2 separate regions of the Homo sapiens genome follow, and region 1 is linked to region 2. The links come from fine-mapping of genetic effects on gene expression. Tissue or cell type: whole blood. Region 2 holds a variant in brackets; the other region holds the start of a gene. All regions are shown on one strand. Distances are from middle to middle.

The links. PIP is the estimated chance that this variant, and not a neighbour inherited with it, causes the effect.
Region 1: it holds the start of RRAGD, and the variant in region 2 is fine-mapped to the expression of RRAGD in whole blood (INTERVAL, PIP 0.97).

Annotation. Positions count from the first base shown.
Region 1 is chr6:89,407,683-89,415,791 of GRCh38, forward strand. RRAGD (Ras related GTP binding D) reads right to left here and starts at 4,591. Exons shown (of 7, transcript NM_021244.5): 1 at 4,164-4,591. The coding sequence starts at 4,311. RefSeq lists silencers at 3,548-3,647, 3,678-3,787, 3,818-5,007.
Region 2 is chr6:89,374,570-89,382,569 of GRCh38, forward strand. It overlaps RRAGD (Ras related GTP binding D), which reads right to left. Exons shown (of 7, transcript NM_021244.5): 3 at 5,599-5,798; 4 at 4,655-4,769; 5 at 3,102-3,244. Among named protein-coding and RNA genes, the nearest start is that of UBE2J1, 26 kb to the left of the region's middle. RefSeq lists enhancers at 528-1,028, 1,029-1,529. The variant C/T (reference allele first, on the strand shown) is at 3,523.

The DNA of each region.
Region 1 (8,109 bases), 33 kb after region 2:
GTCTGTGCTAAAAGTGAAATTGATTGTCACCAGCATTTACTATGGGCTGGGGGAGGATTGAATAACACAGGGGGTGAACTTGGGGCAGACTCAGTTATCTTTGAAAGACAAAAGATGATCTCTCAAACCCAAAGTCATCGGCTCTTATCCAGAACTTGCTGTTTGTGCCTCCCGTTTCCATTAGACTACCCTCTATCTAGTATTAAAATGGAAGAGATCGCTAATAAAAGTAGAGAGTCAGTACTCTCTGATGCCCTGAATCACTGACACAGGTTTATAAAACATCTGATATAGAAAGATACTCTCTAAATACAGGCATTCGAACAAGTATTTACCTAAAGTTTAACTTTGGGCACATCATTTTAACCTATTATGTAGTTTCATCTGTTCCAACTCTTCTGTATTTCCAGGGCCAGAAGGAAATCTAAGAGATAAGCTGTGTCCAGGGCTGTAGTCAAGCCAGCTCTTTTTGGATAAGGCAGAATTACAAGAAAAGGGGCTTACATTTCCATATACTTGATCCTCTTCTAAATACTTCGCTCATTTCTAGCTCATGATAGGGCAGTAGAAAAGCCCCCTGGTATCTCTGAGCCATGATTTCAGTATCAGTATAACTGTTATCTCTACTTACTTCCAAGGAACAATGAAAAGGTGAATTCCCTAATATTTTTAAAATTATTTTAGGAAAAAGCCATGCACAGTCATGCATGCCTATAATCCTAGCTACTTGGGAGGCTGAAGCAGGAAGATTGCTTGAGCCCACAAGTCCGAGACCAGCCTAGGCAATATAGAGAGACCCAGTCCCTTCCCCACAAAAGGCTAACATTAATGAACTAATGATTAATACATATGAATTGCTGGATTCACCCCATCTACATCCTTCAGGAAGGAAGACCCTGGATCTTTCATGCCTCCAGAAACCACCTACACAGTCACTTCCTCAGACCCTAAGGGTGCGCACAGGCTGCTATGAAGGCAAAGACCGAACTTCACTGGACTGTGGGTGAGCAGCTTACGTTAGCCAAGTTTCTCCTAAAAAATGGGAGGGGTTTTGGGGGGAAAACAATTTTACTTTCTGATTAAATATGATCTTGTAATTGCTTTCCCTGTTATTACAGTTTTTAAAGCACAGTAATTTATCAAAAGATTTAAAGTCCATGAATCTAAAAATAATCATTATTTTTGGTGCAATTGTTTTTAACGGCCTAACCATTCCCTCCTCTCTGGTAGTTTTATCTGGAGTGTGGGGATTGAAGGTGAGACTCACCTTACCTGCAATTAACTACCATGAAAGGAAGGTTGAGAGGTGCCCAAATCTGCCCTAACAGAACTAATGTGCCTGAGAACACTTTTGCTATTCATGAATAAAATATGGAGTGGAAGCCAGAGAAGTGCAATTTAAGTCTCACCTTAGTTGCCCTATGTTTTCAAACTCAGTACAATGTGGTAAAATTTACAAGGCATACTCGGTTTAAAAATAAGACCAGAGGTTCCTTTATAAGTCCTACAGACTGAGGGAAATGAAAATTGCATTACATATCCACCTTTAGTCCACTTCTCTTGCACAGCTCCTGATAAATTGCTTTGCAACTTAACTGGCAATACTAGTTGGTCCCACATCCCACCCTCAGCCTCCCACCCACCAGGGTAGATTTCTGAACTTAGTGGAAAAAGTCCCACGTCTCCACTAAGTGCAGGCACTAAACCAAGCTATTAGGAAGGGGAAAGGGGAGTGGGGGTTCATTAGAGAAATGCTTTGCTAGTGGTTCAAAGTACATCTTTTCTCAGAATAACTCCTTTTTTTCCCTACATTCTATTTCTTAAGTTTGAGAGTAGGTAAATGTAAATTTTACCAAAAATAAAACAAGATTATAATGCAACACGTGAATCAGCCTTTTGAAGGGCACAGGAAGGGAAGTCACAACTCCCAACCTCCTCCTCCCAATCCCCACTCCCCAGACCATATCAGCTGGCCTGACAGCCATCAGGAGCAGTCCTCGCTGGAATTGCTGACTGAGGAGCCTATCTGACACTAGAGAGCAAATGTCCTGACAAGGGATTCTGCATCAAGGCCTAAACCCAAAAGTCAAAGCCAGGGAAATCTGGAAAGAACAGAGGCCAAAATATAACGGAGGAAGTCTGAGAAGCAGACCACCTATCCACTGCAGGCCCAGGTGGACAGAGACCAGGCTTAAGCAACGTTTGCCGAGCAAACATGTTGCTCTTCTCACAATATAAATATATTTAATCCTTTTATAGCAAGATCCCAAGCTGATCCCAAAAGCCCATTCAGAAGGATTTTATTATGCGAGTCACCAAAAATCAGTTACAGGCAAGTTTGCCTTTACGTTAACAGCTAAGGAGCCTCCAAGTCTGGGCTCTGGGGAAGCCCTTTGTTCCGGGAATCCCATCCCTCAAGCAGGGCTTTAATTTCACTTCAATTTCAAGTCCCCAAATCAAATTTTAAAAGTGCCCACTTAAAGAACTGCAGAATAAACGAGGGGTCCAGTACTTTTTCTGGACCCTCCAGGCCTCAGGACAGTATCAAATTACAGGGCTTTCCCTCCTGGATATGGCCCCTCCGCCCCCCCACTTTTTTTCTTTTTTAAAAAAGAGAATCCCACACACACCCTACTGTGTCCACCATTTCAAATACCTTGCAAATACATCCCTATTCTGCATCTCTCCGGAGTCTTCTAAGAATCTGGGAGGAGCTAACAAATGGAATTTGAATAATAATGAGGCGACTGAACAATTTAATTACGGAAGGTAGCTCTAGAGACTCCAATAAAACGGCTGAAAGCCTTTATCTACAAAAATGTGGCCTGGTGCTCAACGGTAAGACCAATTACCGGGAGTGCAGAAGACAGAAAGCACAAAGGTGCACACATCAGTTTAAGCAAATGAGGAATTAGCACAAATCATCCCAAGAGAGAAAACGCTATGAAAAAGGGTGACTTGAGAGGCTGCTTTCTCATCTACCAGGCGCAAGGCATAGTTAACTTTATTTCCTTTCTGATTCATTGAAAGTCGTGCCTGCCAGATGTAGAATAATGAAACTACCCTAGTGAGAAAAGCTTTGCATAGAGAATTTAAAATAAGTTCAGTGAATTCTCAATAAAAGTTCTTTAAAAATCAATAGTCACAAAGGTACTTGTATCTCTCACACAATTTCTTCAGTGTGAAACATTAAAGTTAGTTCCTTCTCTTGGATGCATACAGTTTCACTGAGAATAACATCATGTTTAACAGCCGCTTTCTATTGACCTTTCCAAGTGACCTTACAGTAAAGGAACTTTTGCTCGCTTCTGAGGGAAACTAAAAAAAGTTTAACCTCTCTGGAATACTAAAAGGCTCTCAACTTCCTTACACCTTAAGAAAATGCAGGAAGCCCCCACAAGCTGAACGATTGCTAAAACCCGCTTCTAGAACAGGAAAAAGAGTTTGCTTCACTATTGAAGCAAAGAATTCCCCGCCGCGCGCTCACTCCCGGGCAGGCACTGCCATGTCCAGGTGGTGATACCGAGAGCAGATAAGGTGTCCTGACAACGGTGTTTGCGTGGATCCCGGGAAATCTGCGGCCTCTCGGAGACTCCCACAACAGCTTGGCGAGCATCCCCCCGCCGCCCCGCGGGTCTCCCCAGCCACTACCTGGGTGGGCCCCTCCCGCGGCGACGCGGGGCGAGACTGACACCCGCAGCTGCCGACGACCCTGCCAGTCACGCCGCCGCCGGCTGCCTTTTTTTAGCCACGACATCTGACCCTGGCTTCAACAGCACCGTTCTGGGAGAGAGGTCCCAGGGCGCGCCCGCGGTCCCCTCCCCTCCCCAACCGCCAGACGCTGCGGAGAGCTTGGGGTGAGGGGCGCGGGAGGCACCGGCTCTGAAAGGGGCAGAAGCGCGCGCTCCTCCAGCCCAGACGCTTACTCCCTCCTTCCCCTTTTCCACCGATCCTGGTTGCCCCTCCGCCACCAGCACCGCGCTCCCTCATTTGGCAGCTCGAGGTCGGGCTTTTGGCGTCCCTCCCCACCCCAAACCCTCAACTGGACCCGCTCCCCTGGACCCCCTCCAAGTCGGTGGCTCGCGCACGGCCGGGCTGGGGGCGGGAAGGCGCCAAGGGGAGGAAAGGGGCGCGAGCCGAGGACGCGGGGGCCGGGCGCTCACCTCCCTCCTCTGTGCCGCTGTCCGGATCGGCGTCGGAGGAGTCGGGCCCGTCTCCGTAGTCCGCTAGCCCCACCAGCTCATCCTCCTCCTCCTCCTCCTCCGCGTCGTCCTCGTCCTGCGGCTGCGGCTTCCCCAGCACCTGGCTCATCGTGCCCACCGGCCGGCCGGCCCGGGGACGGCGGGGGTCCCGGGGTGGGGGCCAAGCCTCCTAGCCGGCCGCCCGCAGCCTATTTCTGAAGCGGAGGTTTGTCTAGAGCTCAGCGGGGCCCGGCGGAAGCGGGGGCCGCGCGTCCCCCGGCGGGCGGCGCCCAGGTCCGGGTCCCGCGGTTCCCAGCGCGCCCGAAGCCCCCTCCCCCGCCCCGCCCGCCGGCGGAGGAGTCAGCCGGAGCGCGGCAGTTCCTCCCGGAGGAGGGAGAGAGAGAGAGACTGCGTGACCCGAGTCACCTGACACACACTGTCACATACTCACATACACACCCCGCACGGGCGCGCGCGCGCTCGCCCGGCCGCGGGCACCACTCGGCGGGGCGCTGGGCCGAGGACACACATGCACACGCACACGCACACGCACGAGGAGACCGGGGAGGCGCGGGGCCCCTGCACCCTCCCAGACTCACACCGACACACGCCCCGTACACGGGGCCCCCGGGACGCCGGCCGTCACCCACCGCGGCTGCGCGCCAGGGGCCCCCACGCGCCTCTCCTTCACGTGGTCCCCGCACAGGCAGGGGAGGGGGCGCCGCACACCCTCAATGTCCCCCCCGCCGTCCCACTCCCACACGCCCGCAGAGCGTCTACCGTGGGCGGATGCCTCCTGCTTACAGTCCTGAGCTAGGGTCCCAAGCGGGTGGCCTCCCAACACTGTGGCGCCCAGATCCCCCACCCCAGAGCAGCGTGCCCAGGACACCCTGTGGACGCTCAAGAGCCCCAGGCGGAGAACTCAGATAAATGCACAGTGGAGGCGCAGTCTCCATAGCAATTGTCTTTTAGTGTGCCTTTATGGTTCAAAGTGCTTCCCACCAAGAATATTTAAAAAGCAGGCCTACCCAGACGTAAATGTTTCTGAAGAAATCACATGACTCGTGGCTGCTTAGACTAAATAATTCCTCTGCAGCCCTTTGGAAAAGGTCTCAGTGTATAACACACTCGGGGGCTATTCATGGCCACCTCCTCATGTCTCATTGTTGCATAGACTGTAATCCCACATGAATAAAATATTTCAAGGCTTTTGTGGGAGTAGGGGAGTGGCGGTGGTGGGGGGGCAATTCTCAAATAGGAATAGCAGCAACGTGGAGTGAGACTCTAAAACCTGCATTCCTCCTTCACAAGCTTTTCACCACGGAACACACTGTACCCACCCTTTCTGGGTACTGCAAAAAATTACGTGGATGAACTTCCTTCTGTGGAGCACAATAAGAAAAAACCGGCCGGTCAGCATGATGATCCAGCTCCTACAGGTGCCAGCAGCTCAGCCGGTGGTGCGGTGCAGAAGCGGAGGGAGGAAGCTAGGGCAGGAGACTCTCAGGGCCCAAGGGTGCTAACCTCCATAGGAAACATTTATTAACCACCTCCTATATGCCTGAGGCTGGGCTAAGTAGAGGGTCCAAGAATGCTCAGGGCAGTGTTCCTGCCCTGAAGGAGCTCACAGTCTACCAAATCATGACTCATGTCCTGGATTTTTTTTAGTATTTCTGAGTGCAGAAGGTGGATGCAGACACTTTCCAGAAGGTGGCTGCTTCTAATGGGAAAGGTCCTGAGATTTTCCAAGGGAGGCAGGCAGTATAATTTGGTATGACTGTATCAGTTAAGGTTCTTCCCAGGATGAAACAGACGGTATGTGCAAAGACTTTAACTGAAGCCTTCAAGTGAAGGAACAATTTACAGGGGTGTGGACAGAGTTTAGGGAATCAATGCAGGTATTAGCGATAGTGGGAAGATAACACCACCCCTAAATTTACAGGAGTGAGGAAGGGAGCTAGAGTCCTGGAGAGGGGCCACAAAACAGGAGCTGTAACTGATGAGGAAGCTGCTGCTGCCAGAACGGCCTCACATCAAGGAGAGAGCAAAGACCTCTCTTTCTCTCCATCCATCCTCCCTCCACTCTCCTGTGTCTCCCATTGGCCAAACCCATCTGGTAGCCAGAAGGCAAGGGAGCCTGGAACCTAGTCCAGGACAGAGATTGGATAGGGAGGGCAGGGAGTGGGTCCCTGGGTGGGGTGAGGTGCAAGGAGCATCACCAACACAAGCAGGCACTACATACTCCCATCAGAGGCAAGTTACTTATGCCCTTCTAAACCCGATTGCTTATCAATAGAACATCACTCCTTCTAAGGATTATTAGGAAGATTAAATGAGGCGGAAAAAAAATCTCAGGTACTTACAAAGCTCATTTCCTAGGAGTAATTTTCCTAGCCTATTTTCATCCCTTCCGTCAAAGGAAACCCCAGGGAGGAGGGCCTCCCAGAGTGTGGCTGAGGACTTTCAGCTATTCTATAGCTAGCCCACCATCCTCAAGTGGCCTTTGAACTGGTCTGATTCAAACTGCAAATAACAATTTAGGAGATCTAGAAGACTGTCCAAGGTCAACCCAGACTCAGACGTATAGGGCATTCCTGGGCAGGTTGCCAAGTGTGTAAGACCCATGGACTCAAGGGATCAGGAAAGGGCAGGTCATAATCCAACAGCCCCACTGTGCCTATGGACTAGAAAGGACAGAAATGTCTGATGATCCTCTAACTTCCCCAGGAAGAGAGATCTTAGAAGGAAACAATAGATTGGGGCACACTCCAAGATACTTGAGAATTGGACCATTCTTTTGTTTTTTTCTTTTAACATGGAGTCTCACTCTATCACCCAGGATGGAGTGTAGTGACATGATCTCAGCTCACTGCAACCCCTACCCCCCAGGTTCAAGCGATTCTCTTGCCTCAGCCCCTGAGTAGCTGGGACTACAGGCATGCACCACCACACCCAGCTAATTTTTGTATTTTTAGTAGAGACAGCGTTTCACCATGTTGGCCAGGCTGGTCTCGAACTCCTGACCTCAGGTGATCCACCCACTTCGGCCTCCCAAAGTGCTGGGATTACAGGCATGAGCCACCGCACCCAACCTGGACCATTCTTAAGAATAAGAATAAAATAAAATCCCACAAAAAAATCAGTAGAAGTCAAATCCTCAATTATATTCTACCCCAAGCTAAAGAGTCATATACAGATTTAAGATATTCTAATTTACTACCATTTCAGAAATGTATAGTTGAACAGAACAGGAAAAGCCTTGATTGCTTTTTTTCTTTTGCTGACATCATTTGAATACTGTCAGCTTTCAAAGAAGAGATATGTTGAAAATATCCTAGAAATAGAAGTTCTTGAATTTAAAAAATCATGTGTGTAGAATCTTTCTGAATTTAAATAAAAACTGAAAAACACTACAAGAACCCTGAAAGCCTTTAAGAAACTCAGCGTGGGATCTGCTCAGTGAATTGGCTGCTGCCTTGGCCGCTCTGCACTGGAGCTCAGCCTATGTCTGGGGATGTCTCCCCAGGAGAGTGCTCTGAAGAATGTGAAGATTGGTCTCTGGGCTACCCATGGTTTCTGCTGTGGTATGTAACCATGGCAAGTATGTAACCATGGCTTATACTTGACAGGTGCTTAATAAATGCTTATGGAAAAAAAGAGAGATGGGAGAAAGAAAAGAAGGAGAGAAGGAAGGGAGGGAGGAAGAGAAGAAGAAAAGAAGGGTGGGAAGAACGGAGGAAGATAGTATATGGCTCTTCACACAGATCTAGCCTATTTCTGAGAGAAACTTCAGGAAGAAATAGCAGCCAAGTTTTCTACTTGCTCCAAACCTTGGGAAATGCCACAGTGTGGGTAAATATGAAGTGTTAGCTACAAGAGAGCAACTAGGAATGAGCTGACATGCAAAAAGAGCATAAGTCTTAGGCCT
Region 2 (8,000 bases):
AAAATACAAAATTAGCTAGGCGTGGTAGTGCATGCCTGTAATCCCAGCTACTCGGGAGGCTGAGGGAGGAGAATCACTTGAACCCGGGAGGCGGGGGTTGCAGTGAGCCGAGATCATGCCATTGCACTCCAGCCTGGGCAACAAGAGCGAAACTCCATCTCAAAAAAAAAAAAAGTAAATTGTGGAAGTTCGTATTTTTTGTTTTTTTTAAAGGATTCAACTCACTATAACCTACCAAAACATTAAAGAAAAACCTTTTAAGTGCTGGACATCAAATGTTAAAGATGCTTTAACAGAATTCATTAACTTCCATTGCACTGTTTTAACTACTATATTTTAAGGCTCAATCTCTCTTGCTTATAAGTAATGTTCTGAGAACAAGAAACTGAAACATTTAACATGTTTTACCCAATGAAGAAAATAGCATTTAAAATTTCCAAGTAAATATAATACTATATAGATATTAAACACTGTTTATTAACAGCATTTAATAATACAGGAAAATTATCAGGTGGTAATGTTAAATGAAAAAAGCAGGATGAAAAATTTCACATACAAATGTGATCTCATTATCCTAAAAATTACACATGGAAATAAGAACAAACTATATAAAATGTAAACACTGACTGTCTCTAGGTGGTGAGATTATGGGCTACTTTAATTTTATTCTTTAGACTTTTATGTATTTTCTGCAATAAGCATGTATTACTTTCACAATCAGAAAAAGGTAAACATTAAACAAATTAGAAAAACAGACTCCACCAAAAATTACAAGTAGAAATTGATGAGGTTTGCAACTGCAAAAACTGTTTTACTACTCAAGTTTTTCATCTATAAGCAATGAAAACACATGAAGATAGAACATATTTTAAAGTGTGTGCATGTGTGTGTGCATATATGTGCGTGTGCATGTGTGTGCATGAGTGAGCACAGAGCTGCCAGCTGGGGCACAGCCTCAGCTGAGAGATTCCTGAGGCACCAGGTCACCTGATTCTAGGGCCTGCTGGTCTCCACTGGGCAGGTGGGGAGGGGCAGCAAGGCCTCCAGTTACAAGGGCACCTGCTTCCTCATTGCCTAAGAGGGCCCCAGGCTCTGCACACAACCCTGCCTCCTGCTGGTTAACAGGACTGGCTTGTTGCTGCTCCAGCAAACAATCTGAGGAAACCCCAGAGCCCACAAACCATCTGTGACCCAGACTGGTTCTTACTGAATCCTGTGGGTTCTCAGAACACTGTACTCCACCACAGAAAAACCAATCTGACGGCAAAGCCAGGCCACCTCCTCCTAACCCCTCCCTCCCCATGTTTGTTTTAGCTGGGTAAAAGTAACTCTGATTAACATCATTTACATGAACAACTTACCACTTACAGCTAATGACCATATGGCACAATAATGATCATGCACATTGTTAAGCATGTGCCAGATTAATTGTGTTGTTCATTGTACTTGATTACCATGGCAATCTGCACTGTAATCAGGGTGCGTTCATCTTCCATGACTATTTCAAGGTCATCCATTTAAACGGTTTAAAAATAATAGAATGCTTCAGGGCAGTAATCTTGGGCAATAAGGTTTATTTCTAAAGCCAGATGTCAGCGTTTAATTATAACAGTAATAATAAATTATGGCAGCTACATTTATCCAGAGTCTACCAGGTAAAGGCACGTTATGAGCCTAATGATATTTCATCCTCAATACAATCTTGTAAGTATCACTTTCCATGTGTGTGTGGTGTGTGTGTGTGTGTGTGTGTGTGTGTGTGTGTGTGTCTAACAGTTAACAGAGAGAATCCGAGCTGAGTGGGCAAAGGATTTTTAAGCAATGGAAGAGAAAAATGGAGACTAGACTCTCACAAAAGCTGAAAGGCAGAGCGTCAAGCTGTGTAAGGCAGGTCACAGGCAGTGAGTAAAGAGGAAGATGAGCAAAAGCTTTACCTCATCGATTAGATGAGGATGTCAGATACAATACAGATAGCAACACCTTAACATCTTAATAAGATGAACAACTAGTTCACACCTAGTCAGTCTGTACACCACCTGTTCAGCACATTTATAATTATGTAGAATTGTTTCTACATCGGGTAACATAATCAGTTTCCCCCACTCCTTGTTTATTTTATATTAAGTGTATAGGAAGCTCTGTTTTCTAAGAACGGTATGTTAACAGATTTTTTTCAGCAGAGGATCAGGAATCAGATCTGAGTTGAAACTCCAGTTCCAATCCTTACTGATAGTGTGAGCAAGAGTAAGAAATGTAACCACTCTGAACCTCAGTTTTTTCATCTGTAAAGTGAATACACTACAGTTGACCTTAAACAACACAGATTTGAACTGCCTAGGTCCACTTATACATGGATTTTCTTCCGCTTCTGCCACTCCTAAGACAGCAAAATCAACCCCTTCTCTTCCTCCTCCTCAGCCTACTCAATGTGAAGACAATGAGGGTAAAGACCTTTATGATGACCCACTTCCATTTAATAAATAGTAAATATATTCTTTCTTATAATTTCTTCTCTGTAGCTCACTTTATTGTTAAGAATACAGTGCGTAATACATAACATACAAAATGTGTGTTAATCAATCATTCATGTTATTGGTAAGGCTTCCAGTCAACAGTAGACTATTAGTATTAATAGTTAAGTTTGTCAGGGGGGAAATATATGTGGCTTTTTGACTGTTCAAAGGGTTGGTACCCCAACCCCTGTGTTGTTCAAGGGTCAAATGTAATTCCTGCCACATCGAATAGTTGAGAATTAAATGATAACCTGGGCACAGTGGCTCATGCCTATAATCCCAGCTACTCGAGAGGCTGAGGTGAGAGGATCATTTGAGCCCAGGAGTGATCTATCCTGGACAACACAGGGACACCCTATTGCTAAAAAATTGAAATAAATAATAGGAAGCATGCAATGAGATTAGCATAATGCGTGGCATTTGCTCAATAACTGTTATTATTGCATGCTAACTGGTATATTTATTTATAGATTTCAGTCATTTAAGACAAAAATGTTAAAGTTAAGTAAGTAAATGTAAATGCAAAATGCCTGAAAGGTTATGAAGGAAGGATGGCTTGATTGTGGCCTTTAAGAATGTTGTACTTACCCATAAATACAAGAGATGTCAATAACCACATCTATCATATCACAGCAGAGCTCATAGGTTTGCATATCCACCGGAGTACTATCAGTTGCAATATAAATTTTACTGACCACATCAAATAGAAATGCCTTTTCAATTCCAGAATTCTGAAATTTAAAAAAAAAAGTTGCCTTAAAGCAACAGTCAACTTCAGACCATGTCATGACTACACAAAATTGAATGCCATTCTTAATGTAAAATACAAAATGAGCAAAACTCGCTACTAAAAATTTAAATTGTATCATTTTATTACAATTTAAACTTCACTGTCATAAACTTCTCTATACTGGACTTGCATAAGAAATAAAAAGTAGAGGCCGGGCATGGTGGCTCACGCCTGTAATCCCAGCACTTTGGGAGGCCAAGGCGGGCAGATCACCTGAGG[C/T]CAGGAGTTCGAAACCAGCCTGACCAACCGGGAGAAACCTGTCTCTACTAAAAATACAAAATTAGCCAGGCGTGGTGGTGCATGCCTGTAATCCCAGCTACTCGGGAGGCTGAGGAAGGAGAACTGCTTGAACCCAGGAGGCGGAGGTAGCGGTGAGCCGAGATGGCGCCATTGCACTCCAGCCTGGGCAACAAGAGCAAAACTCCGTCTCAAAAAAAAAAAAAGAATTCGAATGACCACAAATTATTTATTTTAGGTAACCAAATTGAGCAATATTTCCTAACTCGTAGAGATACATACCTGCAATTAGGAAAAGGCCAAGTAAAAATACTTTTACTGACTGTAAATTTTAAAATAAGCTTAGAAACACTAAACAAACACACTCAAAATTGTGTAGTGACAGAGTAAACGTGAGTATAACCAATAGGTCTGCCTCAATTCAACTCAGCAGCGCCTACCTGGAGCTGGTGATGTGTAGGGTTCATTCAGCACATCACTCATAGCATGTTAAACTTATAAAAAGCTATTCAACAGTTTGCGTCTTATCAATAAAGCCAAGTTTTATGTTCCCTACCTCTGGTGGGGCTCTATTAATATTGAATGATTGCCTACAGGCTTGAATAAACCCTCCAATTATACCAGTGAAGTGCAGGAATGCATCTGAGTAGTTATATTTTATTTTTAGAGACAAGTTCTCGCTCTGATGCCCAGGCTGGAGTGCAGTGGCACAATCATGGCTCACTTTAGCCTCAAACTCCTGGGCTCAAGTAAGTACTCCTTCCACCACAGCCTCCCAAGTAGCTGGGACTACAGGCATGTGCTACCACACCTGGCTAGTTTTTACATTTTTTTTGTATAGACAGGATCTCACTATGTTACCTAAACTGGTCCCAACCTCCTGGCCTCAAGCCATCGTAACGCCTCAACCTCCCAAAGTGGGGCGTGAGCCATCAAGCTGGGCTGGGAGTTAAATTTTAAAGGATCTAAAAGAACACGTAGGAGTAATCTTTAAAAGTAATACTTAAATGACCTTGAAATGCTATAGAAGCAATCGGAAATAAGATCTTTTTCACTCTTGCAATGTTATTTTCAAATTCTACAAGTGACTCAAACAGGAATATTATTTACTTACTGAGATAAAGATGTTCAGCAAATTCTCCAGAGTTGGGAGTTGTGGAATCAGTTTCTGAACAACTTTGCTAAAAGCTTCAAATATTGAATGATCATATATGCTTGTCAGATAAAAGCTGAAAGAGGAAACGGTATTTCATCATGTTTTCCCTTTGAATGAGGAACAGGCTGCTTAGGCTATGTCAAAACACCGGTAATCTGCCTTCTGTATGTATAGTCCTAACACATACAGTCCAGCCCCCTTCAGAATTTACAGTGACCTCGGTAAAAAACAAGCCATTCCTCCCCACCTCCCAAAAAGCCCGAGCTGTGCCTATTCTCATCTGCTGTGCCTATTCTCATCTGCCAACTGGCAAGCTTACAACCGCAGCAATCTGTGTCCATCCCAGCTTCCTGACATTCTGCAAGACAATCCATGCCAGATCATCTTTACACAAGCCTCTTAGGTTGTCCAATTAGTAACTTATATTCTTGATATTGAAGCAACTATTTTTTTTCCATTTCCCAATTTACAAAATGATGCATGTACTACCTCACAAAAAATGATGGAAACATTGTTTTCCTTTGTGAGGATTCCTATTTGGATTGTTTTCAGACTACTCCTTTACTTATAATTACAGATAATATCTTTATCAAGAACTGTAAACTTTAGCATCAACTAACTACTAAAATTATATTCATAGGTTTTCTATAATGTGTTTCTCATGTGAGGGGAGAACCTTAGCTTTGACCATTTGTTAAAAAACAAAAAAACATCGCTTTCACTAAAGATTAGCATTAGCACATGCAAAGCTCATTTTCCCCTAATCCTATCCATCTACAGCATGAAACAGGGTAAAAAGAAGGTAAATTACTGCCCATGCCAAGCCAATCATGGTGACTCCGAACCCCAAACTTGCTTTCTTCCATCCTTTATTGGGATCCTTAAGGGGTTTCTGTTCTCACCTGAGGTGAATTTTTTCTAATCCAGCATCTGCAAGGTCATCGTTTGCCCTCTGGTGAATATCTCTTTGGGTTTCAATTTTGTGGTCATCTGACAGACCATCCACTTTATGAATAAACACCTCGAAGTTGATGTCAGTATTCACTTTGTAGGCCCTGGTCACCGTGAGGTGGAGCCTGGCCAGGGCTTCCATGTAATCATCCTAGGACCAAAGGCAACGCCTGTGAGAGAAGGCCGCTTTGCTTCCTGAGCCTCCCACACACACTCTTCACCTGGAAACCATGTGGCTGCAACCCCCCGAAATACGTTGCAAAGGTTCCCCTCAACAAGCTGGCTTCTTATAATTCCAGTGTGAAAATTTAAGTTCTGTTAACAAAGAGAGGAAGAAGAAAGGCTAAAAAAATGCAGCTGATTTAGGCAGTTATGACTGAGGTTGATGACAGTCATAAAGATCAGAGTTGGCTGGGCGTGGTGGCTCAAGCCTGTAATCCCAGAACTTTGGGAGGCCCAGGCAGGTGGATCATGAGGTCAGGAGATTGAGACCATCCTGGCTAACACGGTGAAACCCCTTCTCTACTAAAAATACAAAAAATTAGCCAGGCGTGGTGGCATGCGCCTGTAGTCCCAGCTACTCGGGAGGCTGAGGCAGGAGAATTGCTTGAACCCAGGAGGCAGAGATTGCAGTGAGCTGAGATCACACCACTGTACTCCAGCCTGGATGACAGAGTAAGACTCGGTCACAAAAAGAAAAAAAAAAAAAAAGATCAGAGTTGCGGTTTCAGGAAGAGAAACGGACCCTACTCCACATAAGACCTTCCCCAGAATACTGTTCCTCCTAACTTTTCCAGTCTCTTGTGAACTGTGATGAACAATTAGAGATGGAGGCATGATACAGGCCACTGGGCGGGTGGGGAAGGAGCTGAGGAGCAATTTTAAGAACCACTGGTTCAGTGCAGAAGTCAGCAGACCACCGTCTGCAGGCCCTGTGCCTGTTTCTTAAAAGTAAGTTGTATTGGAACATGCTCATTTGCTTTCATATTGTCTAAGGCTGCTTTTGTGCTACAATGGCAGAGTTGAGTAAGTTTCCTCTAGAGAAACTCCTCAGAGACAGTACAGTCTACAAAGCTTAAGATGTTTGCCATCTGCCCCTTTACAGAAAAAGTCCCCTGGTCTAGAGGAATTGCCCCAAACAATACTAACTTTTTTCTTCTTCCCATGCCTATATAATGAACACCTGTGTATTTATCTCTATTTAGGAAATAAAACACCTACACAAAAGCCCTCTGTGTTTCTCCTCATCCTCCCAACCCATGCTATCCCTCTACCCCCTCATCCTCTAGAGACAACCACTATCCCAAGTTTAGTATTTATTCTCACTCATGTATACATTAATACAGACATATATATCCCCAAACATCACATATAATTCATTTACATTGTTTAAAAATGGAAAGAAATATTAAGTTGTGTGTATATTATAGTTTGCCTTTTTCATTCAACACTATGTCAGTGAGATTCACCTATGCTGAATGTTATCTGTAGTACATAACTACAGTGCATTAGTTCCTTTTAATGGCTCTATAAAACTTCCTTTTATGGATGATCTATAATTTATATTTGCCTGCTGATGGACATTATTCCCATGTATATGTGATTACAATGATATATGTACAGTCTCATGTACATGTGGCTTACTCTGAAGGGTGACTTGTCAGGTCATAGGTAGGAGTGCCTTGACTGTACCTGGAAGTCTGTAAACAGCATCTGATGCTTCAGACCCTCACCAACAATTGGTGGTGTCAGATCTCTTATTGCCAATTTGAAGGGTGTGAACAGGTCTTGTTTTTATGGCAAAAAAAAAAAAAGGAAAGAGACCTGTAGGACAGAATCTAAATGCCTTCCCCCTCTGCCCCGCCACTTGTGCCTCCAAACCTGGAAAAAACAGAAAGCCAATATAATTGGGGGTGTTTTCTGGCATTCTTCTATGCTCCAAACATCAGTAAAAATGTATCCCTAGTCTCTAGGCAAATCAAATATTAATTATACAAATAGGAAACTATGAAGAGGGAAAAACCGCAAATGGAGTCCTTCCCATCCTTCACACTCTACAGAGTTGTTTAGAATAAAGGACAAAAGCCAGGAGCAGTGGCTTGTGCCTGTAATCCCACCTACTGGAGAGGACTGCTTGAGTTCAAGACCGGCCTGAACAACACAGTGAGACCCCTATCTCTAGAAATATATATATATATATATATATGTAATTAACCAGACTTGGTGGTGCACACCTGTAGTCCCAGCTACTCGGAGGCTGAGGCAGGAGAATTCCTTGAACTCAGGAATTTGAGGTTACAATGAGCTATGATCTTGCCACTGCACTCCAACCTAGGTAACAGAGTGAGAGCCT